Homo sapiens: one gene and its partners. The protein of the gene in region 1 purifies or fractionates together with the protein of each later gene. This does not show direct contact. Each region holds a gene or a part of one and is shown in the gene's direction. Other genes may lie near its edges.

Evidence for each region.
Region 2: the proteins of RABGGTB (region 1) and NOTCH2 purify together in Homo sapiens (affinity purification with mass spectrometry; 4 studies listed by BioGRID and IntAct, with this or other methods). This does not show direct contact.
Region 3: the proteins of RABGGTB (region 1) and RAP2A purify together in Homo sapiens (affinity purification with mass spectrometry; 4 studies listed by BioGRID and IntAct, with this or other methods). This does not show direct contact.
Region 4: the proteins of RABGGTB (region 1) and TRIM33 purify together in Homo sapiens (affinity purification with mass spectrometry; 4 studies listed by BioGRID and IntAct, with this or other methods). This does not show direct contact.

Annotation. Positions count from the first base shown.
Region 1 is NC_000001.11:75,781,702-75,789,930, forward strand, and holds the start of RABGGTB (geranylgeranyl transferase type-2 subunit beta), read left to right. Parts: upstream 1-4,554; 5' UTR 4,555-4,570; coding exon 4,571-4,573; intron 4,574-5,370; exon of another isoform or gene 5,371-5,448; intron 5,449-5,795; coding exon 5,796-5,903; intron 5,904-6,187; exon of another isoform or gene 6,188-6,271; intron 6,272-7,457; coding exon 7,458-7,655; intron 7,656-7,775; exon of another isoform or gene 7,776-7,846; intron 7,847-8,229. UniProt on the Homo sapiens protein: Catalyzes the transfer of a geranylgeranyl moiety from geranylgeranyl diphosphate to both cysteines of Rab proteins with the C-terminal sequence -XXCC, -XCXC and -CCXX, such as RAB1A, RAB3A, RAB5A and RAB7A.
Region 2 is NC_000001.11:120,059,093-120,067,013, reverse strand, and holds part of NOTCH2 (neurogenic locus notch homolog protein 2 isoform 1 preproprotein), read left to right. Parts: intron 1-7,921. UniProt on the Homo sapiens protein: Functions as a receptor for membrane-bound ligands Jagged-1 (JAG1), Jagged-2 (JAG2) and Delta-1 (DLL1) to regulate cell-fate determination.
Region 3 is NC_000013.11:97,436,777-97,444,697, forward strand, and holds part of RAP2A (ras-related protein Rap-2a), read left to right. Parts: intron 1-7,921. UniProt on the Homo sapiens protein: Small GTP-binding protein which cycles between a GDP-bound inactive and a GTP-bound active form. In its active form interacts with and regulates several effectors including MAP4K4, MINK1 and TNIK.
Region 4 is NC_000001.11:114,395,783-114,403,703, reverse strand, and holds part of TRIM33 (E3 ubiquitin-protein ligase TRIM33), read left to right. Parts: intron 1-820; coding exon 821-944; intron 945-2,240; coding exon 2,241-2,315; intron 2,316-4,094; coding exon 4,095-4,247; intron 4,248-5,713; coding exon 5,714-5,764; intron 5,765-5,843; coding exon 5,844-6,056; 3' UTR 6,057-7,921. UniProt on the Homo sapiens protein: Acts as an E3 ubiquitin-protein ligase. Promotes SMAD4 ubiquitination, nuclear exclusion and degradation via the ubiquitin proteasome pathway. According to PubMed:16751102, does not promote a decrease in the level of endogenous SMAD4.

The DNA of each region.
Region 1 (8,229 bases):
GAAGTTCTGGCCAGGGCAATCAGGCAGGAGAAGGACATAAAGGGTATTCAATTAGGAAAAGAGGAAGTCAAATTGTCCCTGTTTGCAGATGACATGATTGTATATTTAGAAAACCCCATCGTCTCAGCCCAAAATCTCCTTAAGCTGATAAGCAACTTCAGCAAAGTCTCAGGATACAAAATCAATGTGCAAAAATCACAAGCATTCCTAAACACCAATAACAGACAAACAGAGAGCCAACTTATGAGTGAACTCCCATTCACAATTGCTTCAAAGAGAATAAAATACCTAGAATCCAACTTACAAGGGATGTGAAGGACCTCTTCAAGGAGAACCACAAACCACTGCTCAATGAAATAAAAGAGGATACAAACAAATGGAAGAACATTCCATGCTCATGGGTAGGAAGAATCAATATCATGAAAATGGCCATACTGCCCAAGGTAATTTATAGATTCAATGCCATCCCCATCAAGCTACTAATGACTTTCTTCACAGAACTGGAAAAAACTACTTTAAAGTTCATATGGAACCAAAAAAGAGCCCACATTGCCAAGTCAATCTTGAGCCAAAAGAACAAAGCTGCAGGCATCATGCTACCTGACTTCAAACTATACTACAAGGCTACGGTAACCAAAACAGCATGGTACTGGTACCAAAACAGAAATATAGACCAATGGAACAGAACAGAGCCCTCAGAAATAATGCCACATATCTACAACTATCTGATCTTTGACAAACCTGACAAAAACAAGCAATGGGGAAAGGATTCCCTATTTAATAAATGGTGCTAGGAAAACTGGCTAGATATATGTAGAAAGCTGAAAGTGGATCCCTTCCTTACACCTTATACAAAAATGAATTCAAGATGGATTAAAGACTTAAATGTTAGACCTAAAACCATAAAAACCCTAGAAGAAAACCTAGGTAATACTATTCAGGACATAGGCATGGGCAAGGACTTCATGTCTAAAACACCAAAAGCAATGGCAGCAAAAGCCAAAATTGACAAATGGGATCTAATTAAACTCAAGAGCTTCTGCACAGCAAAAGAAACTACCATCACAGTGAACAGGCAACCTACAGAATGGGACAAAATTTTTGCAACCTACTCGACAAAATGTTTGCAACCTACTCATCTGACAAAGGGCTAATATCCAGAATCTACAATGAACTCAAACAAATTTACAAGAAAAAAACAACCCCATCAAAAAGTGGGCAAAGGATATGAACAGACACTTCTCAAAAGAAGACATTTATGCAGCCAAAAAACACATGAAAAAATGCTCATCATCACTGGCCATCAGAGAAATGCAAATCAAAACCATAACGAGATACCATCTCACACCAGTTAGAATGGCAATCATTAAAAAGTCAGGAAACAACAGGTGCTGGAGAGGATGTGGAGAAATAGGAACACTTTTACTGTTGGTGGGACTGTAAACTAGTTCAACCATTGTGGAAGTCAGTGTGGCAATTCCTCAGGGATCTAGAACTAGAAATACCATTTGACCCAGGCATCCTATTACTAGGTATATACACAAAGGATTATAAATCATGATGGTATAAAGACACATGCACACGTATGTTTATTGCGGCACTATTCACAATAGCAAAGACTTGGAACCAACCCAAATGTCCAACAATGATAGACTGGATTAAGAAAATGTGGCACATATACACCATGGAATACTATGCAGCCATAAGAAAGGATGAGTTCATGTCCTTTGTAGGGACATGGATGAAGCTGGAAACCATCATTCTGAGCAAACTATCGCAAGGACAAAAAACCAAACACCCCATGTTCTCACTCATAGGTGGGAATTGAACAATGAGAACACAGGGACACACGAAGGGGAACATCACACACCGGGGACGGTTGTGGGGTCGGGGGAAGGGGGATGGATAGCATTAGGTGATATACCTAATGCTAAATGACGAGTTAATGGGTGCAGCACACCAACATGGCACATGTATACATATGTAACAAACCTGCACGTTGTGCACATGTACCGTAAAACTTAAATAATAATAAAAAAAATCAAAATAAAATAGAAGTTGAAGAAAAGGAAGAAAAACAAAGTCAGGAAACAACAGAAGCTGGATAAGATGTGGAGAAATAGGAACACTTTTACATTGTTGGTGGGAGTGTAAAGTAGTTCAACCACTGTGGAAGACAGTGTTGTGATTCCTCAAGGATCTAGAACTAGAAATAGCATTTGACCCAGTGATCCCATTACGGGGTATATACCCAAAGATTATAAACACACATGCACACGTATGTTTATTGGGCACTATTCACAATAGCAAAGACTTGGATCCAACTCAAATGTCATCAACGATAGAGTGGATTAAGAAAATGTGGCACATATACACCATGGAATACTATGCAACCATAAAAAAGGATGAGTTCATGTCCTTTGTGGGGTCATGGATGAAGCTGGAAACCATTATTCTGAGCAAAGTATCACAAGGATAGAAAACCAAACACCGCATATTCTCACTCATAGGTGGGAATTGAAGAATGAGAATACCTGGACACAGGGCAGGGAACATCACACACAGGGGCCTGTCATGGTGTTGGGGGAGGGGGGAAGGATAGCATTAGGAGAAATACCTAATTTAAATGATGAGTTAATGGGTGCAGCAATCCAACCTGGCACATGTATATCCATGTAACAAACCTACACGTTGTACACATGTACCCTAGAACTTACAGTATAATTTTTTTAAAAAAAGTAACTTCCAATATTTTTACTATTAGCACTCTCCGAAGAAGTGTTTGTGGTGGCGGTGGTGGTGGTGGGGAGGGTGGCCTGTGTGTGTGGCGAGGAGAGGGGGCGGGTACAGGGCTGGACCTTGAGATAGATAAGGCAAACAGGAAGGAAATGTGAACATTTCATTAATATTCATTTAAAAAATATTCATTGAACACTTACTACGTGTAAGCAGGCACTCTACTAATTAACAGCCATTTCAGATTTTCAGAGTGCAAAGGGCCTCAAGAACAAATGATTTATTTTTTTGAGACATGGTCTCGTTCTGTCTCACACCCTGCAGTGCAGTGGCATTATCACCGCTCACTGTAGCCTCCACCCCCTGCCCCACAGCTCAAGTAATTCTCTCACCTCAGCTTCCCCAGTAGCTGAAACCACAGGCTTGGGCAACCACGTCTGGCTCATATTTTTATTATTTGTAGAGACGGGGGTCTTGCAACATTGCCCAGGCTGGTCTGGATCTCCTGGAACCGCCTTTGCAAAATTATAACTGAGGAAATTATGGCAGTGAAAGAAATCAGACCTAACGGATTCCATCTTGCTTCTAACTTTTGTTTTTGAGACTAGTCTCGCTCTGTCGCCCAGGGTGGAGTGCAGTGGCGTGATCTCTGCTCACTGCAAGCTCCGCCTCCCGGGTTTAAGCCATTCTCCTGCCTCAACCTCAGGAGTAGATGGGACTACAGGCGCCCACCCCCACGCCCGGCTAATTTTTTGTATTTGTAGTAGAGACGGGGTTTTAGCCAGGATGGTCTCGATCCCCTGACCTCGTGATCCGCCCGCCTTGGCCTCCCAAAGTGCTGGGATTACAGGCGTGAGCCACCGGCCGCTTCTAACTTTTAAGCTGTCCTTCTTCATTCCTGAGCCTAGGCTGAACCAATTTAGGGAGGAATTCAGTTTATGGTTTGACTCTGAAACAAAATTGATAATATCCCTTTCCCAAAAAGACCGCTTTTTTGCCTGGGGACCAGTCTGCCTTTGCAGAACCAACAGATTAGCTACAAGATTAGAAATTACAGTTTAGAGGTCATGCAGCCTCTGGCTCCAAGTTTCTGAACCTCCCCAAATTGCTCCTGGGGATAACATCACTATTGTAAAACCTAAGATAAGTTCTTGAGATATTTTGCAGACCCTGCTCTCCATGGATCAGTTGAAACCACCCAGATTGGTAATTTGGCTCAACCAGTTCTGCCATCCTACCCAGGAACAGAAAACAGCAAGAAAAACTCACGTCTACCCACTATGAGTCCATCTCCAACCTGACCCATCAGCACTCCCTACTTCCCAAGCCCCTAATCGCCGAATTATCTTTAAAAACTCTGAATACTGCTTGGGGAGACTCCATTGCAAGTCCCCTGTCTTGATAAATGGGCTATCGGTCAGCAGCAGGCAAAGTGAACCACAATATTGGGTGGTTACACTCCTAGGATCAAGCAATCCTGCTGTCCGGCTTCCCAAAGTGCTGGGATTACAGGCGTAAGCCACCGCGTCCAGCTAGAACAAATGATTTCTTAAAAGCAACTCAGATATTTAAATATTATTTAAAACTGTTTCTAGACAAATCGGAGTGACTATGGGACAAGCATATGGTCGCAGGACTTTGGACGCAGGCAGTGAGGACACCTATGAGCGATCAGTGGGGTCCTACGGCAGCCGTGGAACTGCTCTGCCTTGCAGGCGAAAGTGTGGTCAGCTATATCGGAGCGCGATGGGGGCCTGAGAGGCGCATCTGCGCAGGCGCCCGGCTCCTAAGTCTACCCAGGAACTGACCCTGCTCTCTCCTTTCCCTGTTAGACATGGTAAGTGTGAGTTTAGCGCTGCTGTCCGGATGGGTTGGTAGCAGACAGGGTGGAGTAGGGTTAAGCACACTGGTCACCTTAGGATTGGTTTCCTGGTGCTGGAGAATGGTTAGGACACAGGCCTTGGAAGGTTTTTTGAGTGTGAAATATTACTCAGCGTTTTCTGCAGACCTCGCGGGCAATGCCGCTTCTAATTTTATCCAGGCCTTCTTCTGTAGGGAGGGCCTGTTAAGAGTTGAGCAGCCCGATTTCTGAACCCCTCTAAAAAGCTGTGGCTGATTGGTGGCTTTTTTTTTTCTTGGAGAGGGGGTGTCAAAGATTTCTTTAAAATCGTTAGTGATGTGGTCTCGCTTTAAGATTTTTAATGGGATCAGAAGAAAATTCGGTACTTAATCACTTCCGGTAATCTTCATGACCTGTTATAGTGACTGCAGTGTACTCTCAATGAGGAAGATATAGATACGAAAAGAACTAGAGCCGCATCACATGGGGACTTCTGCAAATACAGAGACTCGGATTAAAGGTGGAGAAGATGGAGCTAAAGGAACTGCTTATTTAATACATTTGAACAACTTTTGGGGTACTTAGAAGGTGCTTTGAAACCTGCATTTGATTAAGCAAGAATTCGCTTGCAAGTTAAGGGTTAGATTTTTTTATTTTTTAAAAATATGCTTTCTGCCACATGTAAACCGTAAGTTGTCCTGAAATGATAAGCTTTGATATTCTATGGTGTTTATTTTTTACTTATCTTTTTGAATGAAAAGTGAACAACAAGAAATGCTGGTGGTAATTTTTTGGGTCAATGATGAGTTGGCATGTATTCTGAATCTAAAGTTGATTATTACTACTTTAGCTCTAGAATTACTCTGAGACCTGAAAATTACCTGAATCGTGACTAAGACGAAGCCTGAATGATTTAAGTTCTTTTTTGTTGGATACAATTTGTTGTTGTTGTTGTTGTTTTGGTTTTGTTTTTGAGTCGGTCTCCGGTCGCCCAGGATGGAGTGCAGTGACACAACCTCAGTTCACTGCAGCCTTAATTTCCCTGGCTCAAGCGATCTTCTACCTCAGCCTCCCTAGTTAGTTACAATTTTTAAATGGAACGTTTTCCTATTACAAGATGAAATCAAGTGAAAATTGAGATGTATGTTGAATCTATGCTGTGGGGCAGAAGAACGTTGTAGAGGTAAACATTGATGAGATTACCACTTTATTTTGAAAGGGCACTCCACAGAAGGATGTTATTATCAAGTCAGATGCACCGGACACTTTGTTATTGGAGAAACATGCAGATTATATCGCATCCTATGGCTCAAAGAAAGATGATTATGTATGTATAATTTTTTTATGTTGGAAAGTTTATTTTAAAGAAGTGTGACAGTCATAAGCAGTGAGACAGTATTTATGTCTTAAAATGGCATCCAACTCCATGCAGAGAACTGAGGATGTGCTGTGCCTTTGAACTTCAGTTAAGTGTGCTTTGGACGTCTGAGGCTGTGGGCTTATTAGAATCTCAGTTTTTACCTATACTGAGAGGGCTTGCCAGACAAAGTAGATGAGGGTTTGAGGTACAAAACGGGTTTCTCTTTTTGTAGTTAGGGGTAATACTTTCAAGGTCAATGATGTGTTGGCATGTATTATCTGAATCTATTGCTGATGTGTAATAACACTTTAGCTCTAGAATTACTCTGAGACCTTGAAAAAGTTTTACCTTAAATTTTTAAATTTCGAGGAAAACTCTGGGACAATCTTAGCAAAAAGTAGTAAACAACTTAGTTAAGAGTAAATGTTTTTCCCTGTAGTATCCAAACTCAGTTGTCTTAGTCTACCGATTTGTGGGATATATGGTATGTATTAATTTTTTACTTAAGTGTTAGGTTCCCATAACCTTGAAAATACTCTATTAGCAATCATGGAGTTAAGGCCATATGGATGGGGCTGGACTCGTTTCTGCCTTTATCTGCTATCTATCTTTATGCCCTGAATTTGGGTTAGTAGCAAACTAAGATGCACCACCTGTTAAAAAAACTTCTTTTTTTCCTTTTGAGAGCTATAACCTCACTTTGTTGCCCAGACTGGAGGACAGCGGTGCGATCTGGGCTCACTGCAGCCTCCATCTCCTGGGTTTAAGTGAGCCACCTGAATAGCTGGGATTACAGGCACATTCCACCATGCCCAGCTAGTTTTTGTATTTTTCGTAGAGACTGAGTTTTGCTATGTTGGCCAGAGTGGTCTCAAACTCCTGACCTCAAGTGATCTGCCTGCCCCAGCTTTCCAAAGTGCTGGGATTACAGGCAGGAGCCACCACCCAGCCACAAAACTTCTTAAAATATAATGCATTGTTGAGTGTGGGAAAAATTTGTTTCTGGAATCCTAATACTAATTTTCATGTATCATTGATTAGCCACTGTTTTATCTGGGCTTAAACATCTTTGGCATGTTTAGGGCATTTTGATTTTTCATGTAGTTATATAATTTACTAATAGATAATAGGTTTTGTACAGAGTCCACATTAAAATAGATGTCTGATAAATATGGTATAGGTACTCGGAAAGAAATACTCTCCCTGAACTTCACTGATGAAAAAGGTAGATGTTTTTCTGTCTCTGGCTCATGGGAGAAACTAAAGCACTGTTTGTATTGTCAGCCATAGATTAACTAATCCTGTGCTTCTCAGATAATTGTTTTTTTCTGATAATAGTTGTGTCTGAAGATGGCTTCTAACATTGAGCAGCACAGATTTTAAACTCACTACTGATCAGTGCTGTTAAGGTCAGGAGAGGTAAAAATAGCAGCATGGCTAATGAGTTACCTTTGTGTTTAATCTCTTTATAACTTGTTACCAGTTCAAATGACAGATTTAAGAAATTGTGTATTATTTTAGGAATACTGTATGTCTGAGTATTTGAGAATGAGTGGCATCTATTGGGGTCTGACAGTAATGGATCTCATGGGACAACTTCATCGCATGAATAGAGAAGAGATTCTGGCATTTATTAAGTCTTGCCAACATGAATGTGGTGGAATAAGTGCTAGTATCGGACATGATCCTCATCTTTTATACACTCTTAGTGCTGTCCAGGTAAATACTAATCAAAATTGCAACGATCTTGATAGTATGTTCTCTTACTTCAGAGTTGGAAATTGAAACTGTATCAGGATTTGGTCAAAAAGTTTTGTTACAAGTGAAGCTGTCCTACAAGGTCAATGATGTAATGGCATGTATTAGCTGAATCTAAAGTTGATGTGAGTTCTAAAATTACACTGAGACCTTGGAGGGTAAAATTTTTATCTTCAGTATGTGTAAATACTGTAAAATAGCTAAATGGAGCTATTTGATTTTGATATTAGTGAACATCTACCTGGTGGTTTAAAGTCTTTCTGGTACTACTGGGTGCTGAGATGGGAAGATCAGGACTTTGTGTGGATGTGAGTTAGTATACTTGAGTATCTTGGAATGCCAAGTTAAAATTTATATGTAGAAAATTATACTTTAAAGATTTGAGTTTTCTTGATACTATCTAATTTTATTCAATAACAGGAGAGTCTGCATATTTGAGAAAAGGTTATATACACAGAGACAAAAGGATGTGCTTGACAACTTAAAAAGAGTTGAGCATAAGATCATTAGAATAAACCTGAAAGGGACATTTACC
Region 2 (7,921 bases), about 44 Mb from region 1:
CATCCTCTTGCTCCTTGTTTTCTTTTGCTTTGCAATGGGAAGTGACTCCCTGATTTTGCTGCCTGCTAGATAATTTCTCAGCTGAATTCTTCTCTTGCTTAAACAAAATCGGAGTAATTTTCTTTCAGATGGTGATGAAATTTAACCTAAAACTATTTTTCCTTTCACTTTCTTATTATTCCTTTTTTTTTGGTGTGGTGGAGAGGAGGAGGAGAGTGATTCCTAGTCTCTCTTATTTTTCTGAATGTTTAGATTTAAAAAATATTTACCCATAACTTCTTGGGATCTCTCTGCTCCATTCCCACCCTACTGCCTCTCCTGTAGGCTTCTATGACATAGAGGAGCAACTTTTGGTTCACCTGGATTGTAGTTGCTGACTTCAGGACCTTTAGAGAATGTTTAAATTCAGTGGGATATGCTTGGATGGTTCAGAGCAGCCTTACAATACATCTTAAAAATATCACACCCACAGAAATTCTATTTTGCCCACAAAATTTGCATTGATCTAGTTCCCACTCTGTGTTGCCATTCCTAGTGATCCTCCTCCCTACCTCTCCCATTATGGTAGAAAAAACTCTGTGTCCTGGCTACATCAAAATCTGTTGGGGTGGATCTTGGACTCAGCACCCAGGGATTCTGATAAGGTAAGTTTGAGAATCCATATTTTTTCAAGGTTTACAGGTGATTCTGACAAGTAACTTGGTTGCAACCCACTGATTAAGTACATTTTTTTTTACCTTCAGGTGTGTGTATGAGGTCTTTCTAAATTTAAGAAATTTCCATAACAAATGTAACCTTAGTCATTCCAGTGTTTAACGCTTCTGACTCAAGGAATTTAAAAATTGCTAACGTAAGAGATATAGAATATAATGTCATTTCTTCTATTTATCTGGGTGCAATATGTCTGCATTGACCCTTTAGAAGGGCTTCATATATTTAGATGATATAATAAATTCTCCACCTCTCCTTTTCCCTTTTCTTCTGTTATCTCTTTTTCCTTAAATGTCATTCATACATGTTGTTTTTTGACCCTTTATCTATATACGTCTGCAATGATTTTAGAGTAAAAAACTGCAAGGCGTGATTTGAATAAGGATATAAGAAATTTTACATCATTTTCTTTATATTGTGTTCACAGTCCATAGTTACATGCTTCCTTTCTTGATGTCTCAGTTCGAATGCCTAAATTTGAACTATTGATTTTCCTTCCACCCTTTCCTGATTTTCCTGTTTTTGTTTCTCCCCCTTTCTCTGCAAATGACTTGAAACCAAAAGGTCTTCTTTTCTTTCTTTGTCAGCCTACCGTATGTGTAGTATTTTGGACAGATCACTGAACTAGGAGCCAGAAGACCAGAATTCTTCTCCAGGTCTGTTATTAATTGGTTTGGTGACCTTGTAGGAGAGCCACTGTTTCCGTCCTCCATTTTCTGATGTTCATTGTTCATGGTCACAGAGCCAATTAGAGTTGAGACTAGAATTCCTTTCTTCTGGTGTCCAGTGCCTCATTCACTGTCCTCATTGCTTCCATCTCGTGTACAAATGCGCTTATGTGCACAAAAACTCTTATAACATCCTCAAGTGCTTATTGTTAATGCGTACATGAGGAAGGAATCGTGTATTTTCATTTATGTGTTTATTCTAATGCCCATACCCTACCCCTGTACCTGGCATGATGCCTTGGTATCTAATAGGCACACAATAAATACTTGTTCAGTCGAACAATTATTTTTAGCCATTTTCTTATTTTGGACAACTGTGGTACTCCTAGACATTTTAAAAACAGTATTTGCAGGAGTCATGCTTACCTTACATTTGGGGAAAAACCAAATTTTTCCCTTCCCCAGATGTTTCATTTTAACTTGTAATTTTGAATTTCTTTGTGTGTGGGGTTTCTTTCTTTCTTTTTCTGATCACTTCTGCAATTTATAAAGGTCACTTTGACTTTGGAATCTCACTTCAAAGGCACTGCCATCCACCCCCTGCCTCTCACTCAAGTTTGCTTCCACTGCTTCCTGTATTACTGTATTACTAGGCCAGCAATTTCTGTTATTTTGTCCAGAATAGCCACACCTTATTGTAATTTCATCATTTTGGGGACTAGTCATTTTTGGAATACTATTTTTAAAATTAGAGTTAACTAAGTTTATATTTATTTTGATAATTTTTTTTGAGATTTTTTTCATTGAGTTGGATATTGCAAACTTGTACTGGATTGAGAGAATATGTACATTTAGTAAAGTATATTTGCTTTTTTTTTTTTTTGAACCAAGAGAGTCCCCTGAACACCCTACTGACAAAAACTAAAGATGAAATATGATGAATAAATATTTGAGAGAATCACATGGTGTTGAGTTGTCTCTGCCACATGATTTTGATCCTTGAGGGCCAGGTCTGTGCTACACACATTTCTTCTCTGTACTACAGAACTTGTCTGGCATGTGCCCCAAATTCAGAGTCAACTGAGCAGCAGGTCTTAGTCACAGCATCTATGACTCCTGCTTTCCCACCTTTAGAACATTCTATAGGAGAGGCTGATGGTGAGTTGGAGTGTGTTTCTATGTTCTTTTTTCCTTTGAAGAGATAGGATCAGTTGAAAGCTGACCCCACCCACAGACTTTTTTTGCTATCTCTTTTAATTAATTAAGGAGTGGCTGAAATTTTCCTCTTTGTTGACTTATGCATTGGCGGGAACTTTAAAATTCATCTAGTCTTTCTGTCCATCCCATGCTGGATCTGATGTTTACAACATTCTAGTCAAGAGGTACCATATTTTCTCTCTTCTTGAACATCTCTTGTGGTAGACAGCTCTCCACAGCAGTTTATTCCATCTTTGGCCAGCTCTAATTCTTAGAAAGATCTTCTTATATTCAGCTGTAATCCGTCTCCTCATGACTTGTCCTCATTGACATCTACTCAGAAATTTGTCTCAGAGTCCTGAGACCTGTGCAGGTGATAGGGACCCAAAGAGATGCTTGTCTGTAGACTTTACTGAGCTGACACCCAGCTCTCCATAAAAGGAGTCAAACCCAGTGAGGAGCATGTCTGAGGTGATTGCTCAGGTAAAGCATCTTAGCCCTACTTGTTTCATACCTCCCTGCACAGGTGGGCACTGGTGGGAGAATAACATTTATCAAGCAGTGTTTCCCTAACCTCTCTTATGATAAGAATAGCTCAGGTGTTCTCATGGAGATTCTGATTCAGTGCATCTGGAGTGTCATCTGGGAATTTGTGTGTTCAAGAAATAGCCAGGTGATTCTTACATTAGGAAAGTTTTAGAATCACTGCAGAGTGAATCTGGGAAATCAAAGTGTTTTTGTTTGTTTGTTTTTTGAGAGTATTAGAGACAGGTTGCTTTGGCTAGATCCTGTGGTCATTTTTCCCCCTTGGAAATGCCTCCTACTTGCTGGCCTCACTTAGTACAGAGAAGAAAGCTGCTATGGTATAAGGTTAGTAAAGTTGTTTTGTCTTAAAAGAAATTTGCGAAATCCAGCATTTTCAGACTTCTGTTTGTGTTGTATGACTTTGTTGTAAGCCTCCTTATTCCTCCATTAGAATGTTACCTGAGATGTTAGAATGCATAGGAGTTCCACAGCCTTTTTGGTGTCCACTAAAGAATTCTGTCCTCAGCCGTTGCAAATGGTGCTTCCTTTGAGGATTTCTGCTTCATTAGCTCATGAACACATATTTGGTGTCGGCAGTTTCCCTCAGATGTGTTAGTGTGGAGAGATATAAAGGTCACTCATTTCTGGCAGTCCTGCTTTTGGGGTTTCTGGGCTGCTGCAGCAAATGAAATAAGGAAAGGAAAATAAAGGAGGAATCTAGGGCTTCTTGAGCAGAACAAAACAATCTGCAAGAAGGGGCACAGGATTGCTCCTCTCACAAAGACACTTGATAATACTGTCCTTGATAGGAAGAAGGAAGTGGCTTCAGATCTGAAAGGATATGCTCATAGGCTTGAGACGGGACAAACTGCATCACTGGTAGTGGTAGGAGGTTTGCCGTAGATCTGTTTTTTCTCCTGTCTCTCTTTTTTGAGGAGAATATTATCTGTATGGCAGAACATACGTTGTGGTCTTAAAAAGGAGAGTAAAGCCAAGAAAGGGGGATGATAAAGCCATAGCTTGGAATAAGAAAAGCAAAGGAATTATTGTATTAACTTGTGTATGTAAATACATAGGTTTCCATGTAATTCACTGGTAGGATCACTAGCCCTTGGCACTAACATTTGCTATCTTTGTAGCTCTGCTGTCTTAGTGGTGTATTGGGGGAGCATTGTGGTGTGTTGTCACACTTAATTTGTGTGCTTCCCTTGGCATCATGTGGTAGCAAGTACAGGGTATTCTCCTCTTCTAGATGTGTGGGAATCATTGACCAAGTAGAAAATATGGTCCTGCTCCCAAGGAGCTGACATCATCATGGAGACAAGACAGATAAGCACACAATTAGGAATATGAAATACAGTTATTTTATCATTTATCTATGCTCTCTGAAAGCAGTTTCCTGCAGTCAGGGTGACTCGGAGCTATAGGGTCTTGGGAGTAAACTTCAGGTCTTAATACCACCAGGGAAAGGCGACCTCCAGCTCACCCTTGCTGGGCTTGTCTGCTGTCGTGAGCTGTCTGCCATTTTCCTCTTTCTGTGTTGTAATTTAGAAGTATTAGAACTTGGCTTGGGGAAAAGACAAAAACCCCTTTGTCTGGTGAGGGTGTAAATATAAATTTGGCACATGTTGTGGTGTCTATTATGTCTGTTAGTGGGTTTGCGGCAAGAGAGAGTGCTGTGTTCTTAGTCCCGAATGCCAAGCCTGAACTAGGACAAGTTATGGTGGAGATATCTTCCTTGGAAGATGCAGTTCTCAGTGGCAGTGGCTGAAGGAACTTCTCGTCACAGCCAGGCAGTGACTGAAGTGTGGTGTGGACACACCCAGAGTTGCTGCCTCAGGTGGCATTGATTAATCATACTAATATCTCCCTCACCCTTTTGTACTTGTCTTGGCAAAACCCTGTTCTACTAGCTCCCCAATAGTTTGGCCTTTACTAGGTATGATTGAACAAGCTCTTGGGGGTTCACCTTAGTGTCCCTTGCCCCTCTCGCATTTCCAGCCAGCTACGTCGCTCCAGCCATGGTACCCCGGGTCCTCTGGCCAGGCAGTGAGGGGCTGGGTTTTTCTTCCCATTGGACTGAAGCACCTTTCCCTGGAGGCTTGCCTAGGGCAGTTTCTGGTCTCCGAGTCAGTTCCTTCTGCAGGATACTGGCAGCTGGCAGAACTCTGGGTTATTTGAATACATCAGCCAAACATCTTGCCAAGATGGACTCATTGTTGCATAAAGACAGGTTGGATCTATGGGTGTTGCAGAACCTGTTTCTGGGTTAAGAGTAGCTCTCTCACCCTTATTATATATGTTTATTCATATGATGAATGTATGTGTGTATTTTGTGAAGTAAGGAAAACATGATGATAATATTGTGGTTGGAGTTAGATACCTTATCCTAAATATGTTGTCTTTTTAACAAATAGCATTCCTTTAAAATACAGTTGTGCTTGATGAATAAGGTGTTGTACAAGAAGCTGTGGTTACATTCTAAAATAAACTGCCTTGTTCTGAGGCAGGCACGTTTTAAAATTGTTGTTTGCTTCTTTTTCATCTCTTTTTATTTTCATCTTTTTTTTTGTGAGAAGATTCTGTAAGTTTTTAAGCTTCAAATATTTTCAATAATCTATTTTAACGGGTACCTAGCAGGGAGAGGTTGTTCTATTGGTATACCTAACCAACATTCAAATAAGAATAATTGAATACTGTTTACTCACTAATCTGTTCTGTTGAGTTTCTAAGTATGAATAATCACAAAACTAGATAGTGCTGATATATCAACTTCTCTAAATGGTAAATGTGGTAAGTAGCAAAGACATTTTTGTTTAATTCTCTCCTTACACATGCTTTGGTTCAGACGCTGTCAAGACACATTGAAGTTTGAGGACATGTGTATTTCGATTATTTTATTATATTTTTATTTGCTGTGAATATGGGTTTATTTATTTGCTAGATCTTCTTTAGTTAGAAACATTAAGGGCATTTACTTTATTACAACATTTAAAGTGCATTCTAATCTTCATGAGGAATTTTAGGTAAAAGACCGTATCCTGAGATTCATGCAAGTCTTTGGCATTATGTTACTATTTAAAGTAAGTAATATGTAGTGGCTTCTCTGACATATTCTTTCTAAGAGAGTTAAGGAAAATAGTTGTAACTAAAAACAAACATTGAAACAGTTTAAGGTAGGTTTACGTAGCAACAGAATTATTCGTTATGTTTACAGATAATTAACTCGTATTTATACTTTGCTGATTTTCTCTGGCACCTTTACAAGATTTTTTTATTTTTGTAAAATAAAAAGTAATTATGTTTGAAAAAGTAGTTAAGGATGTTTGAAGAATCTAGAAAAGCATAAATAAAATGTCCACAATCATGCTGCCATTAATTTTTTGGTATACGTCTTTGGTTTTTTTACCCTTAGATTTAGAAAAGCTGTTGATTTATTTTTATATATATATATATATATATTTAGTTTATGAACAGATCTACATATATATATATGCACACACACATAATATACTATTGTCAACACTAGGTTTTATTTTTAAAAATCTTTACCATTTGATAAGTGGTAAATATTACTTAATCTTAATATGCCTCTCTCATTACAGTGATATTGAATGTTTTTTCATATCATCAGTGGCGTTTGTATTGCCTTTTTTTCTACTTCTTTTGGTAAATTGTGTCTTTTACTCATTTAATTATTTTCTTACTGGTTTGAAAAAGCTCTTTAAATATTAAGGGTGTTAGTCTTTTGTCTTAAATATGTCACAATATGTATGGAAATAATTAGCAGTATATAACATAACATCAAATTGCTACCAATGTTGATATAAAAATTGTTCATTTCATAGGTTAATTTTTTTAATCCTTTGGTTTCTAATGATATTGGTTAATTCATTTGTTAACTGCTATTTTCTGTAGCTACTTGAAAGTTCTTATCTGACTGTATCGTAAATCAGCATGCTTTCAGCTGTATATGTCTAGGAAATTGACATTTACTTTAATACTTAATAAAAAAATATGTTGGAGAAAAGCAGTGTATTCTGGAGTCAAATACATGATTTTGGGTGGGTGACGTAATCGGCTACTGTCCTCCTTTTCTAGATAGCCAAGATTTTTGAAGCATTTAACATCCCTGAAAGGCAGGACTAATGCTATGTCTACCATGCACTGCTAATTCTGACACTTTGACCTAATGGATAAATGCCAGTACAGTGGGTCTAGCCAGTTAGCTTGGTCAGAGAACAAGATGACTAAGATTCTCTCCCCCTTTCCTCACCAAATTGATTAGTTGTAGGACAGAACTGACTGAAGCAACCTGTTGTTTTGGCAACCCATGGACACCACCTGTTTCTTCCATTCCTCTGTCCAGCCTCTCACTGCCCTAGTGCAGTGCTGTGTGCACAGTGGGTAGGAGATCAATGTTGTTGCTAAAGAATGTAGCAATAAAGAAGAGTAGATTGCTTTTTTTCCAAGCTTTTGTGTTTTTAAGGCACCCCGCTGGTTTTGACATTCGTTGCTCCAGCTGAACTGCTCTATGCTGAAGCCCTGCAGGTCTCAAGTGTTTGGTTCAGAGTAATTTCAGGCCATATGAATGCTTTCTTAAGTATCATTGGAATTTACTGGGCTGGCTGTCTGCCAGCTATTACCATATTTAGCATGAAGAGACCTGGGGAATGAGGACATTTCTGATCAACCAAGGAAGGAAACCTATTTGAAGGATTACAATATTTTCTTTTTTTTTTTTTTTAATGGTGTAGTTCAGAAAACGCCAGTTAGACCGAGACTCAAATTTATGTCCACTGGTCTTTGTTTCTGTGCCC
Region 3 (7,921 bases), on another chromosome or scaffold:
GATATAAAAAGATCATTGATCAGCTGAAGTAGAGTTCATAAATTCTCTTCACCAGAATTCAACCGTTGTATACATAAGAACCTCTTGGACCCTCACTTGTGTGTCTTTGTAATATGGTAGTAGTAAGGTATTTTACACCTCATCCTAACCCCAGCGTCTGGCTTCCCATCATTGATGGAGAGGACATGTGAATGCAGGTGGCCTCTTCTTTACCAGTCTTTCAGTATTTGATATCTACTGTCAAATTCAGTATTCAGCTTTAGGTCTAGGTCAGCACTTTTCAATAGAGATATAACGTGAGCCACATATGTAATTTTAACATTCCTAGTAGCTGATTTTTTAAAAATAACATAAATATATGGAATTAATTTTAATGTATTTTATTTAACCCACCATATTTAAAATAGAATCATTTTGACATGTCAGTATTCAAAAATTATTAATAAGGTACTTTACTTCTTTATACTGTGTCTTCAAAGTTTGGTATGTGTTTGACCTACCACATCTCAATTCAAACAAGTCACATTTCAAGTGCTCAGTAGCCGTATGTGGCCACAGGCTGCCATATTGGACAACAGAGGTCTAAGGTGTATATGATTTGGGGAAATGCTTGCTTATTTCTCTAAGCTTCAGTTTCCTTATCTGTGAAATAGAGATTAGCATGCACCTTCCAGAGTCCTTGTTAGAATTAAATGAGATAATGTATTTTAACATTCCCAAAACAATACCAGTACACAGAAATTGCTCAAAAAATTCTAGCTGTCATTCTTACTTTAATAACTTTGTCATTTATCTTCCTTAAATGTTACCCTTGATATAAATGTAATTTTAGAAGAAATAAATTTGTAATTGCATTTTGGAATTCATTACTTAGTATATTCAAGATGAGACTAAAAAGCAATGAGGTTAAAATAATCCTTGGAAGAATTGTGTTGGTATTCTCTTGAAATTATTTCCCCTTATGAAGGATCTGATGGAAAAGGGCATGAGAATGAACATTTAACTTCAAGTACAGTATAGCAATAATGCATAGCACTAATGCATAGCCAAACAACGAATGGAGCTTTTCATTTTTCATTTTCATTTCAAATAATAGCAGTCATTTTCAAGGATTGCTATTACTTGAAATGTTTCACTTTTAAGAAATGTGAAACTGACCCATACTCCCTTAAGTGTCTGTAAGTGTACATACCTCCGTATACATACATGACCTCTTGTCAAAGCCAAGTGGACCAACTGAAAATGGCTATATTTGTAAATTCATATGCTTTCTTTTCTTAACTTGATTTTGGGTGAGATGACACACACAAAGAAGAGTAACAGGGATATAGGAAATGTTTTTCAGTTGAAATAAAACTAGAATTTTTTTCTGATTTTGTAATTGCTTTTTTCATTGTTACCCATGCCAGGATCAGCCATGGTCCTGACATGAAGTTCTTGGAACATGATATACAAGGCCTCTTTGCTGTTAGGAAAAAGTCCAGAAATCTTCAACATGACCTTTCACAGTCCAGCTTGCTCTTATCCCTCCCTGCCTGTGCAGCCTCACCTCTTGCACCCATCCTTTTATTCTAGCACCCAGACCTTAAGTCCTTGAAAGTACCTTTCTCTGGGCTCTCCTTTGGCCTGTGGAAATCTACCTTTTTGCAGAGTTAATTCCTACTCCGTCTTTCACCCTCACCCCTGCTTAACCCATTTATACCGGAGGTTGCAAATGTTTTTTGTGAAATATCAGACCTTAGCAATGACCTTGAACAGTAGGATATAAATAACTCCCACAAGCTTAGTGTTCCAATAATGGAACACTAGGCATAGATGAGTTAAAAGATTTTTCCCCACTGAGGGAAGATGTCCTCTCAAACCAAAGTAACCCCTTTCCTGTCTTCCCTTACTAAACTTTATGCCTCACCTCTTTGCTCAATCACACATACCCTGTCCTTTCCCTTTTCTTTGAAGCACTCATCCAAATTTAATTATTTGTGTGATAATTTATGGGTAGCCAGCCTTTCTCACAAAACTCCAAGCCCACGTAGGTGACACAGCTCCTACTAGCACATAGGAAACAAGAAAAAATGTTGAAAAAATGAATGTTCAGAAAGAAAAGTATTTGTATTGTTGTTTGGCCTCAGTTTCCCTAAACATTTTGATTTCATAGATGGAGGAGATGATCTTTTAAAGTTCATTTTGCAGATGGAGATGATCTTCCTTCAGCTCGAACTTTCTGTGAGAACACTTCCAGTTGGGGCAGTGTTTAATACGAACCTCAAAGAATCAGAAACATGATGTATTCCAGATGGAGGAAATGGCACAGGAAATGCATAGAATATGTTTTTTGGATGTTAAATAGAGCAGACTGGCCAAATGGGGAATGTATATAGAAGTGTGAGGGGAGGTAAGGTGAAAATTTTTAAAGCTAAATTACTGAAGGTTAAAGACTTAGGAGTTGATCATGTAGTCAAGGACCATAATCACAATTGTCATAGGTATAGCAATATGTAGTGATATGGTAGATGTCTTAGTGGTAATAGACTACTCTGTTTCATAACAGGAAGAATAGTCATAAATGTTGTGATAATCCAGTTTTTACGTGAAGTGTGAAAATCCTGAATTAGCATGGTGTCTGTAGTAACAGGAGAGAAAGGATGCAAGGAATGTTGTAAAGAATGAAGTAATCAAACTCAGTGGTAGAGGAAGAGGAAAAGGTCAGAAGTAACCTTGACATTTTGAAATGAACAAATAGGATTATGGAGGAATAGCTGGGGGAGATTATTTTCAGTTTTGGAGATGGTAATTATCCAGATAGCCAGCCTAATAAGTAATTAGAACATTTGAATAAAGCCTGAAAGGTCAGGTTATGTATGAATATGAAGACTCAGGATCATCTGCGTAGTTCAGATTGGGAGAGTAGATGAAACCTACTGGGTAGAGTATAGAGACAGAAATGAATGGATATGGCTAACAATAGAAATGAGGAATGAATGAATATAGCCAAGGATAGAACTCGAGAGTTGTAAGATACACAGTGGAGACTTCCTATATTGCAGTAGGCGAGAAGGCGTGGGGTGTTTTAAGATTGGGAAAAAGATAGTTGACTAGCACTACCCAAGGTGAGTAAGTTGTTTTTTTTTAAGATTATTATTAATTTTCTATATCACTTAAGTGGTCACTTTCAAGTGAGCTGGCTGATTGTTTACACTTTCCCCCTTACCATAAGTAGCTATTAAAGCCTACTCTAAAACAGAAGCATATTACCAATTGTTACACATAGATCTTTGGCCCATGACAGTTTGGTGCTGGAGAGCCGAAACGAGAGTATACATCAAAAGATGTCTGTCCCAAGTAAGTGAAACTTCTGGAGCTCTGCTACCGTTTTTCCCTCTAAAAATACCTGCTTCCCCAGTACCAAAACTTAATTCAAAGCTGGACCTCCCAGGTACAGAGCCTAATAGCTGTGGGTCACTTTTTTTTTGTTTTGTTTTGGTACTGGTGAATTAGTAGGAAAAATTTTTAATAATAAATATATATAACATGAAGAATTGATGACTAAATCCTGAAAGTCAGACATAAATCCAAACAAAGAATTTGGGTATGAAGATAAGGACTGATGGTGAAACCTCTATCCACTTAAATACAAAACTAAGATAAAAGAATTGTGAGAATTATGGCTGCCAAACAGAATATTAAAGTTAAAAAGACTGACAATATGAAACAAACAATATAACTAGTAAGTCAGGATGAGAGGAGGGAAATAGTTATGAGTGCTCACTTCATCTTTCATGAGAGGGATTTAAATGGTCAAAAAATTGAAATTTGTTTTGAAAATGACTCGAAGAGCTCAGTGTTTTTCATGATCTTTTTTTCTTTAAAAACCACTTTATTGAGGTATGATTGATGTACAAAAAGCCAGACATATTTAATGTGTACAACTCAGTGAGTTTAGAGATAAGCATACACTTGTGAAATCACCACAATCAATGCTGTAAAACTATCCATCACCTCCAAAAGTTTCCCCCTGCTTTATTTATCTATCCATTCATTCATTCATTCATTCATTTTTTTTGTAGTAAGAACACAACATAAGTTCTGTCTTCTTAGCAAATGTTTATACAATACAGTATTGTTAACTAGAAGTACTATTACCATACAGATGTCTGGGACTTACTTATCTTGCATAACTGAACTTCATACAGTGAATCACTTTATGTGGCCCAGAAGTTTTTCCTGAAAAGGAAACTTTTGTTTTGGCTGCATTGTAAAATTACAGGTTACAGTATATAGTTTTCTTTTTGCCACTCCAGGATTGTAATTTTTAAAGCTCAATTTGGAGTTGGAGGAGATGATGTCTCTTCCTCTCTAACATTCTGTGAGAGCACTTTTGTCTGGCCGGGGTGATGAGGGAAGGGGTCAAGTTTAATATGAACCTTAAAGAATCAGCAGCCTGTGACCCACAATTTTGTCTAGTTAAGATTTGATAATTGTATCAATAAAATCTACAATAAGGAATAATTATACTAATACTTATTTTTTAATGGAGGGCAAAAATAATTTAAATTATTAAACATTAAGGAAGAGGTAGAGGAACTAAGAAAAATCACTGGATTTCACAGCCAACAGGAAGAGCCAACAAAGTTGGAATCTATTTGCTAAAGTTTCAGTAGCAATATACTTGAGTGATTTAATTTCTGTGTGTGAAGTTCTGGGAAATTACATATGGCACAATAAGGTGCATATATTATGCATGTATATGTACATATTTTTAAGCAAGGATCTTTACATAAAACCAAGTACACTGTACTTAAGGGAATTTTTTTTCAGGGGTATTTTTTTCTTTTCAGTTCTCTTTTAGTCATTGTCTTTAGAACCTTACTGCCTAGGGGAGCATGTATGCCTTACTCTGGGGTTTTCTTTGCTTCTGTTTTGATTTTTCCCTGTTTTCTGTTTCTCTCCATCTATTCTTACCTACTGTTTTTTTACACACTTATATTTTTCAGGCCTATGTTGTAAAAAGAGTTTTAAGTACTCTAAGTTTTTTTGGAGTAATAAGAGTTTGAATACGAGCAGACTTTCAAACAAGGTAAAACTGATGGTGACTGAATAGTTACTAAAGGAAATGTATAGATATTGTGTTTATGTAGGAAATTTATCTTGAAATTTTAATGGTGTGCAGAAATATGCCATATATTATATATTGCCATTTCATTTGTTACTTTGACACTTGTGGTTCATATCATTAAAAATTATTCTCAGCCTGACAGAGAGAAGTTTAATTTCTTAAACATCCTTTCTGCTTTACCAGATCAAACTCAGCCTTTTAGTAGAGTAATATCAATAATAGTAATGCTGTAATTGTGGACATCTGCATTTCAGTCAAGTATGTTAAATAAAGCATAAATATATTAGTAAAATTTAAAGTAATCAAAATAACTAAAAACAATATTTGAAGATTCTAATACATAATCTAGCTAAGATTTTGTCATGGTATGTATTAAATTCTTTCTCTGGCATAATTGTATAGATGGGGATTTGTTTTTGTTTTTTATTTCTCTAATACATTTAAGATTTTAAAACATACCAAAATTTATATTTAGGGAGAAATAAGGTGACTTATAATTTTTATTTTTAAATTGTTATCTGTCAAAAAGCCAAATATTGGAAAAAATTAATAACTATCTCTATTTTTATAGATCCACTCAGCAGGGGATTTCACATTTTCTTAACCAGGGCCCTCAGTAAGAAGTACATTTTATATTGTGACTTAGTGCACACATAGGAATAAATACATCTAGCCGAAATCAACATTTCATAAGACAGTAAACTTGCTATGTTGCTTGTATTACTTTTTCTATTTATTTTTTTCTATTTTATTTCGTTGTTTTTAAGTGCTTTTCATGACCCACCAAATTGATTTTATCACACATAGCTTGGAAACTGCTATCCTAGGACATTTTTACTCTAAGAAAACTAAATGTAACTATCTGTTTAATATTTCATCTTCTCTCTCCTGCTTTTCTGGTTCCCAGCAATGCTGTGTAAGATTACGAAAATGAAGTACTTCCCAATGTGAGTTAGTAAATACTACCTGTAATTCAGAGAAAGATAGCATTTAGTCACTGAACAAAAAGATATAGCATATCTTTTGAGAAAGCATTTATCTCTGTTGTGCATATTAGAAATATGAGAATGTATTTCTCATGTAATGTTGTTCATTCTAGTAATTCAAGATAACTTTTGCCTTGTGAAAACTTAGAACAGAGAAAGGGAGGTTGTGGTAGTATTCAGACTTGAATACATGAGTGCGGGATTATCTATTTCAAGAACAGTTGCTGAGGAGGTTCAGAAAACTCAAAATAGAGGTCTGCTGCATCTATCCAGGATAACACTGATTCACCTCTCCCTGTAAGACAGTAAAACTATAAATATCTTAAAATCACTTAGTAAAGTTACCCAAGAGAAACATTGAAAAACCTTTATTTAAAACATTTAGGAGTGTTCTCATGCTTTCCTGACCCTTAGAAATTAATAATTCAAATGTGGAAATACTATATTAATAATTCAATGCATATTAGTATTTTCTCTACTAAGTATCTTTACAGCTCTCTCTCTGTAAATGAAATCTTAGAGTATTTTAAGAGACAGGGTCTTGTTCTGTTGCCCAGGCTGGAGTGCAGCGGCGCCATCAGAGCTTACTGCAGCCTCTAACTCCTGGGCTCAAGCAACCCTTCTGCCTCAGCCATCTGAATAGCTAGGACTACAGAGCAGGCACCACCGCATCCAAGTAATTCTTTAAAAATTTTTTCTAGAGATGGGATCTTGTTATTTTGCCCAGGCTGGTCTCAAACTCCTGGCCTCAAGTGTTCCGACTACCTCAACTGCCCAAAGCACTGGGATTACAGGCCTGAGCCACTGCCCCTGGTCCTAAATTAATTCATCTTTAGGTTTCCAATGAACATTATGAATACTGTATGTATTATAATTCTCGAATGGAGTATTTTATTGTATATACTTATCTTCTCATCCATGAAGACAGCGAATGTTAATCTCATTAAAGCTGAGATCCAGCACTTATTAGTTATGTAATTAGGAGCAAGTTGACATTCCTTGCATTTTAATTTCCTCATTTGTAATATGAGTATGATGTAGTAACTCGTGAGATAACGAACGTAAAGTGTTTCTTTACATAGTGAACCTAAAATATTAATAATAAAGTTTCACCAAGAATCACAGAAATAGGAATGAAACCCAGCCTTTTATCTGTATACTGCCACGTGACTTCTTAGGAATTAGGCTCAATTGTCTTACTATATTGAGATGAATTATATACCTAGTATAGTATAACATTTCTGTTTTTCCCATTGCTTTCTCCTCTGTGTTTTAAGTGCTCTAACACTACGTTATAGAACTTATAGCATAGACCTTGAGTGCTTTGTGTTTTTGCCTTCCCCTAGAGACCTAAATATATTGGCTATAAATGGTGGCGGTAAATTTTTTGACTCATGAGGAATTGTGATGATTTTTAGTACACATATTTTAAATATTAATATGTGACATAAAAAGCAATCAGCATATTAGTATTTGTTAACACTTCTCTTTTTAAAAAAGTTAATAATGACAGTAGACCTCTTTATGAATACCAAATATGCATGGGGTGAAGATAATTTTAACAGTCTTTATGGCTAGTTATATATAGTAACATGCTGGCATAGCTTTTTAATAATCAAATTGAGAAAAGTTTTGTCTTTGTATAAAAGTCATCACTATCAACTAATATCATTTAAGCCACCTCATTTGCATAGCATTGCCTTGGGCATTATACAGAATAAGAACAAGATACTATCTTTGTCCTTCTGGTGTGCCAAAATGTCCTATAAATGGGTATATATTTTGCAGTATTGAGTTATACAGAAATATATTTTTAAAGACA
Region 4 (7,921 bases), about 39 Mb from region 1:
TAGCTGGGCATGGTAGCAGGCCCCTGTGATCCCAGCTACGTAGGAGGCTGAGGCATGAGAATTGCTTGAACCCGGGAGGCAGAGGTTGGAGTGAGCCAGGATCGTGCCACTGTGTACTCCAGCCTGGAGGACCCAGTGAAACTGTGTCTCAAAAAAAATAGAAAAATCTGCCGGTCATGATGGTGCACGCCTGTAATCCCAGCTCCTAGGGAGGCTGAGGTACAAGAATCGCTTGAACCCGAGAGGCGGAGGTTGCAGTGAACCAAGATTATGCCACTGCCCTCCAGCCTGGGCAAGGGGGAGATTCTGTCTCCAAAAAAAAGGAGGTATATATACATGTGCTTGTGCCTGCAGGTATGTGTTTGTGTGTTCTAGGTTTTGACCACGAAAAAAGAACTGATTTACTTGTGGCATTTTAATACATGCCAAAACAGTACAAGATACCTGAGAAACTCTGCAACCTGTGCTCTTCTTCTTCATAAATAACTGAGTCCACATAATGGTGATACTGGGATCTGAGAGAATTGGTCTTAGGCCTTATGCTGCAAGTACTGCTCATCACTACTAAGAGACCCCCTTTTAATGCGGAGGTGCCATTTTTATAATGCATTCCAGAAAGTAATCAATTGATGCGTGACTAGGAAAATTTAGAGGAGTTTTTAATCACATGACTTCACCTGACGAGATTTCACAACTATAAAACCTCCCTTTTTTCAAAAAATTATTAAGAAAATAAACCAGGCCCCAGTCCAGGGAAGTAGCTTCTCTAGAGCAGGCTTTCTTATAATTACGTGGACTAATTGCCTATTTCCCTGTCTAGTGGGGACTGGATATGCACATTTTGTAGAGATATTGGAAAGCCAGAAGTTGAATATGATTGTGATAATTTGCAACATAGTAAGAAGGGGAAAACTGCGCAGGGGTTAAGCCCCGTGGACCAAAGGGTAAGTGTCAAATAAGTTGATTTGTCACTGGGATTCAGTAGTTGTCTGCCTATATATACACCTTTTTTTTTCCTGTGTAGCATACACAAAACCTGATAACATTTAATTTTTAATCCTGTCATCTGATGGTATATTGATGATTTCTGAAGTCTTTTTTTCCTCTAACCCTGAACTACAGACCCTTCTATCCAGATTCCTCAAACTTAACATGTCCCAACTAAAATCTTAATTTCTAATCCTCTCCCTCCAAGCACAAAACCAAGCAAATAACGACATAAAAAACTGTATTCCTCCCCCAGTATTCCCCTTAATTGAATGATACCACCATTCATTTCTGTTGCTCAGGTTAGAAACCTATTAGAAATGAAATAATAATAACTATAATATGATTTTCTTACCTTACATCATAATTTCTCATCTGGACTATTGTAGTGATCTCTTAACTGCTCTCCCCGCTTCTGCTCTTGACCTTTATAGTTTGTTTTCTGTATTAAACAGTGTTCTTTTTAAAAAAGTAAACAAGTCTATCATTTCCTTGCTTAAAATCCTCTAATAGCTTCTCATCATATTAAAAATGGAAACTCTCTCCTTACTTTACTCAGATTTTTACCAATCTGGCCTGTAGTCTGATTGCCAAAGACAGACTCTTTTGCATTGTCGTGTGGTCATTAGAGTTAAGTTTGGCTCTACTCTGGTGTATATACTGGTAAAAACCCTCATCCACTATCTGTGAAGACAAGATACGTGTTTAGGGTATACAAACTTGTATTAAAAGAAGTTTAGATAAATAGAAGACTGTGAATGTAAAATGCATTTCAGTTTACTCATGATTGGGTAAAAAAATATTTTTGGAGTTAGACTGAGAAGGCCATTTTCATTTTGAACCTGACTGGAATCATTTGAAGAAAGGGGATGATAACTTTCAACATTTGTCTTGCCTGTCTAAGGAATTACCATGAGGAGCAACAGTGATAATTTATTTACTTATTTATTTATTACCAAGTAATTTATAAATTTTTGCACAAAGTGTTAGATGTTGCTTTTGTGACTCCCTTCCATAAATTACCTTAGTTATCTTCCATTCTTACTTAAAGTAGAACAAAAGATAGTCTGAAAACAAAATGAGAAGCAAGGGAATTTTCTTTGGGTGTTTATGTTTAGTTGAGTATCTAGTAAACAGGGGGCTTGTGTTCAGTTTGTTGTAATCAAACTTTGTTGTGATATAGTTCTCATTCTCGAGAATGTTTTATTAGGAGAAAAATATTTCATGTGCTTTCCTTTCCTTGTTTGGGCCAGAAATGTGAACGTCTTCTGCTTTACCTCTATTGCCATGAATTAAGTATTGAATTCCAGGAGCCTGTTCCTGCTTCGGTGAGTTGCCTACCTTAGTAGCTCGGTGGGGAAGTCTCATAATACTTAAGAGTATGGGCTCTGGCGGCCGGGCGCGGTGGCTCACGCCTGTAATCCCAGCACTTTGGGAGGCCGAGGCAGGCGGATCACGAGGTCAGGAAATAGAGACCACGGTGAAACCCCGTGTCTACTAAAAATACAAAAAACTAGCCGGGCACGGTGGCGGGCACCTGTAGTCCCAGCTACTCCGGAGGCTGAGGCAGGAGAATGGCATGAACCCGGGAGGCGGAGCTTGCAGTGAGCCGAGATCGCGCCACTGCACTCCAGCCTGGGCGACAGAGCGAGACTCCGTCTCAAAAAAAAAAAGAAAAAAAAAAAAAAGAGTATGGCCTTAGACTAAGTTGTATTACACCTCAGCCTTCTGGAATAAGCTCTTCAACCTCTCTAAGACTCAAGTTTTCTGACACGATTTTTTACCTCATTGGGTTGTTCTGAGGATTATATAAAATAACCTATGTAAAATATTTAGCATAGTCTATAGTCATTGAGTTTTGTAAGGAATAAAGGCTCTAAAATGCTGCAATAAAAGGAAGATTAGAGGTGTTTGGTGCCTAATAAGTGGGGTAAGAATATTCTACACACATTTTATTGCTAGCCATCAGTTGTTGAATAGTACATTATTACATACCAGGCCTGTTAGAGAATATTAAATGGTAGTTGACTTGTTTACTGGGTAGCCTGAGAAATGAATTTTAAATCACAAAAGGTATAGACAGAAGGAAGATGTTTTGTACAAGCAGTAATCATCTGTTTCTGGAAAATTTGTCTCATCTTTAAGTGCAGGGATTTTAAAGTAGAAAATGACTTTCAAATGTTTTCTTTTTATGGACTATTAAAGTAGCTTCTTGGCCGGGCATGGTGGCTCATGCCTGTAATCCCATCATTTTGGGAGGCCTGGCAGGCAGATCACTTGAGTTCAGGAGTTCAAGACCAGCCTGGCCAACATGGTGAAACCCCCTCTCTACTGAAAATATAAAAATTAGCCGGGCGTGGTAGTGCATGCCTGTAATCCCAACTGCTAGGGAGGCTGAGGCAGGATAATTGCCAGGGGATGGAGGTGGCAATGAGCCACAGTTGGCGCCACTGCACCACTGCACTCCAGCCTGGGCGACAGAGCAAGACTCCATCTCAAAAATCAATTAGTCAATCAGTCAATAAAATAGCTTCTCTAACTTTACTTTTATCCCAAGGGTAGAAATTTTTCGCCAGAGTTGGGGTCAGAATTCCCTAGCGTGAACACTAAATGGTTAATAAAGTTAGTAAATTTTTCTTATGTTCTTAGTCTTACTTCCTCTGTTACTAAGTCAAGACTTCGTGATGTAAATGATATTCCCTGTTATGTTTTCCAAAAGACATCATATTCTAATTGTAACATTAATATATTTTGTAAATTTTTTTCTTTAAAAAAAAAAGAAAAACTCCTAAGGAGTCATAAAATTCTGGTAAGTCAAATGTTGCCTCAAGGCTACTGGTTGGTTACCCTTGCTAATTGCTTTCTTTCCAAATCTTATTATTAAAAGTAGGACTTTGGGGACTTGGACTAACCATGAAGATTGGCACATATGCCACATAAGATTTGGTTTTCATGAAGATGTAAAGTACATACGTCTATACTCAAAATTTGCAAGCAGCTGGCTCTATAATAATTTTTTTCCCTAAAATTAATATGCTATGCATTTTCAAATTAAACAGTTTGGCATTTTTGGAGAATTCTTATTTGCCATTATGTGCTTATTTTAGATACCAAACTACTATAAAATTATAAAGAAACCAATGGATTTATCCACCGTGAAAAAGAAGCTTCAGAAAAAACATTCCCAACACTACCAAATCCCGGATGACTTTGTGGCCGATGTCCGTTTGATCTTCAAGAACTGTGAAAGGTTTAATGAAGTATGTTAACTTCCAACCTATAGAGTCTTGATTTGTTAGTTTTTGTTTGTTTCCTTGTTTTATTTTTCTGCTGACTTTAATTTTATTAAAATTTTTTTTTCTGCTAAAGTCCTGTCAAAAGTAACATCTGATTGTATTAACAGCTCCAGTGAAGAAAATTTATTGTGTATAATTTGGAGTATATACTTAAATATAATAAATTAAGAATATTATCAAATATCCTTTTCTAAATGAGTTGAGGATTGGCATAAGTATGGAAAGTACTGTCAGTAGTTACGTATATTTTGTGGAATATGATTATAAACAGCTTACGTTTTGGGTACTATTAGGAAAGTTATCTGTACCCATGTCCTTGCATTTTATTATTGACAACATGAATGTAGAACCTTAAAATAACAAACTAATCTCTGGTGACCCATCTTGAATAGTAGCCCAGAGTATATAATACTAAGTTTTCTTATTTCAGCAGTGTGACTTTGATTAATTTTGGTTATGTTTTTTGGTTTGGGGAGTTTTTTGTTTTTTGTTTTGTTTTGTTTTGTTTTTTTTTTTTTTTTTGAGGGTAAGTTTGAGTTAGCCATGCCTTGAGAAGAAATGTATTATATACCTGTTTCAGGGAAATTGTTTTTATTAGGGATAAAATCGATTCTATTATTGTTATGGAAGAGTTTCATTGTAGGAGAAGAAAATGGAATTTAATGAGAATCCACAAAATCTTTTAAAAGATTAATACTAAAGTCTCTTTATTGCTGGTGTAATTTGGGTGCCATATGATTATTACTAAAATAAATCACATTGGATCCTGTAACGTATTCCTATAGCTGCCTCTGGAAGCATCCAGATGGCATTTTAAAATCAAAAACAAAACAAAATCCTCATAAGGTGAAAATTCTAAGTCACCTTTATAGCAGTATGGCACAGAGTATATTAGTAAAATCTCACTAGTTTGAAGTTATATTTAGTCCCAAATTCTGTCTTATTTTTCAGTGCAGTTAAATTATTTTCAAATAAATATGCTTTCATGAACTATAGTTGATAAGAAGACCCATGTTTCCTGCCTCAGTAATAAATAGTTTATGATTAACATATTGCTATACAGATAGAATTTTTATTAAGTGGTTTGTTGAAAGTTTGTCAGTTTTTTAAAGCAACGTTTCTTGTATAATATGCTTCACAAATATTTTTCTCTTGGATAGATTGATGTGTTCAGACCAATTCCTATTCAGATTGACCTTGATAATTCAAAATAAGACAATTACTGAGGTTTCACAGTAGCTTTAGTAACAGGGCTTTGTAAAGAAAATGGTTCCATGTTCTGTAGAATTTTAGAAAAGCACTTTATCTGGTTATAGCAATTTGTTCTCCCTAGTATGGCTGACTTTTCGTCGCCAATCCTATGCAGTCTCATAACTTTAGAAAGGATTATAATTTCCCTTTTTTTTTTTTGACTCTGGTATCCTTTTTAGATGATGAAAGTTGTTCAAGTTTATGCAGACACACAAGAGATTAATTTGAAGGTAAGCTTTTCAGACCATGCAAACTTGGTGAAGGAATATGCATTACCAATAGGTGAATATTCCTATCTTTTGCTTGCAGGCTGATTCAGAAGTAGCTCAGGCAGGGAAAGCAGTTGCATTGTACTTTGAAGATAAACTCACAGAGATCTACTCAGACAGGACCTTCGCACCTTTGCCAGAGTTTGAGCAGGAAGAGGATGATGGTGAGGTAACTGAGGACTCTGATGAAGACTTTATACAGCCCCGCAGAAAACGCCTAAAGTCAGATGAGAGACCAGTACATATAAAGTAAAATGACATGGATTTAAATCAATTGTTTAAAAAAAAAAAAACGAAAAAAAAAAAAAAAACACAAAAAACCCAGAAAACTTTTAAGTGTTGCTGGAATATCCTGCCTACAGTGGGCACCTCCTTGAAGAAGCTGATAGCTTTTACACAGTATTAGATTGAAATAATGGACAGAAACACATTCTTGTCAAGAAAGGGGGAGAGAAGTCTGTTTGCAAGTTTCAAAGCAAAAAGCAAAAGTGAAATGATTTGAGGATTTCTGTTCTAATGGAGATGATTCTCTGATTGTTAGAAATGGCAAATATTGATGATTGTGTGCTATTGATTGGTGCAGGATACTTGGTATACGAGTAAATACTTGAGACTCGTGTCACTTGATAAATTTTCTTTTTGGACTAGGTCGCACAGTTATTAAAACAACTTTTAACCCTCCCCCTTCACACACATACATATCAGGTTGTTTTCTAGTTAAAAACCCAAGTAGCTCAGATTCTACTTTAATGTCAGTGCAGATTTGCATTGAATCATGCCATTATGTTTTTTCTCATTTTTATGCTGTTGGGTCTTAGTTTTTAAATTGATATAAAGAACTCAGCAATGGTTTTATTTTCTACTCATACTTAGGGTTTAGGAAACACTACCACTAGTTATCATTTAATCAACTTCAATGGTCTACTGAAACAAAAATGGTAACTTTTCATTAGTGGATTATTTAGAGTTATAGTAGTTGTTTCCAGAAAACACTTCCTCACAATTGTACTTCCCAATCAAATCATGTGATCATACAGTTATTCCCATGAAAGGCAGAATGTTTGTTTCAAAATTAATCTAGTTTTCTGTACATTTAAATTTGAGAAGGTGACAACTGGCTCTTTTCCAGTCTTCCTTCATGTCAGTTTTCTGATAGACCACTATTGGCAAACAGTATCTGTCAACTACCAAATGTGTAAAATTTTCTGTATTTCACTTTGTCTTATTTGTAAATAGTGAACTAAAACTTTTGGCAGATCAGCAACATTTGCTGAGCCTGTTTTTTAAGCTAATGTGTATTCTTACTAATGTTCCTATCAAGAATGGATTTGTAATATATGCTGTCTATTTCTAATGTTCACATTCATATTTTGAGGTTCTATCTTATTTTAATAGAGAACAGACTTCTCAAAAAATCTTCAGAAGCAGCTTATTATTGAAATATCGAAATATTGAAATAAACCCGGTGGGGTTAGATTACTCATCTGTCCACCAAGTGGGACATTTGCATGGACTGGGGGCTTAAAGGACTTAGAAGAGACCTGTAAGTAAATCCTGAAAATGAGCCAATCCCCACTTGAATGGTTACTGGAGTAAACCCACCTTTACCACCCCAATTACAGCACCCGAGGCCGATAAACCAACTTGGCTCTGGTTCATTTTTCTTTTCTTCATTTGTGATGCTCAGATTCAAAATGTGTGTTCTACACTGTTACAGGCTTCTCTTTTGTTTGATTAAAGATTTTAGTCCTACTTTTGTATGGACACATTAGAATATTCAGAGACCAAAATAGAAGAATTTGCTGTTAGATATTTTTCAGAAGTCAGCAGATTTGTGGCAAATCATTTATTTGCCTTTTTAAAAATTCATTTAAGCAGTTCAGAGAGTAGACTACTCAGAAAATTATTTCACGTAATTGTCTAAGAGGTCAATATTTTTTAATGCATATTGAATCAAATAAAGTGCTCTAAAGAAATTATTATACAAATTCCTTTGGGTTGTTTTTCTTTTCTTAACAAGGGGTGGGGGTAAACAGGAATATGATTCAGGCTTTCTGGTTGTGTATTTAAAGAGTATTGATTTTATTATTACTATTGATTTACTTTATTCCTGGCTTC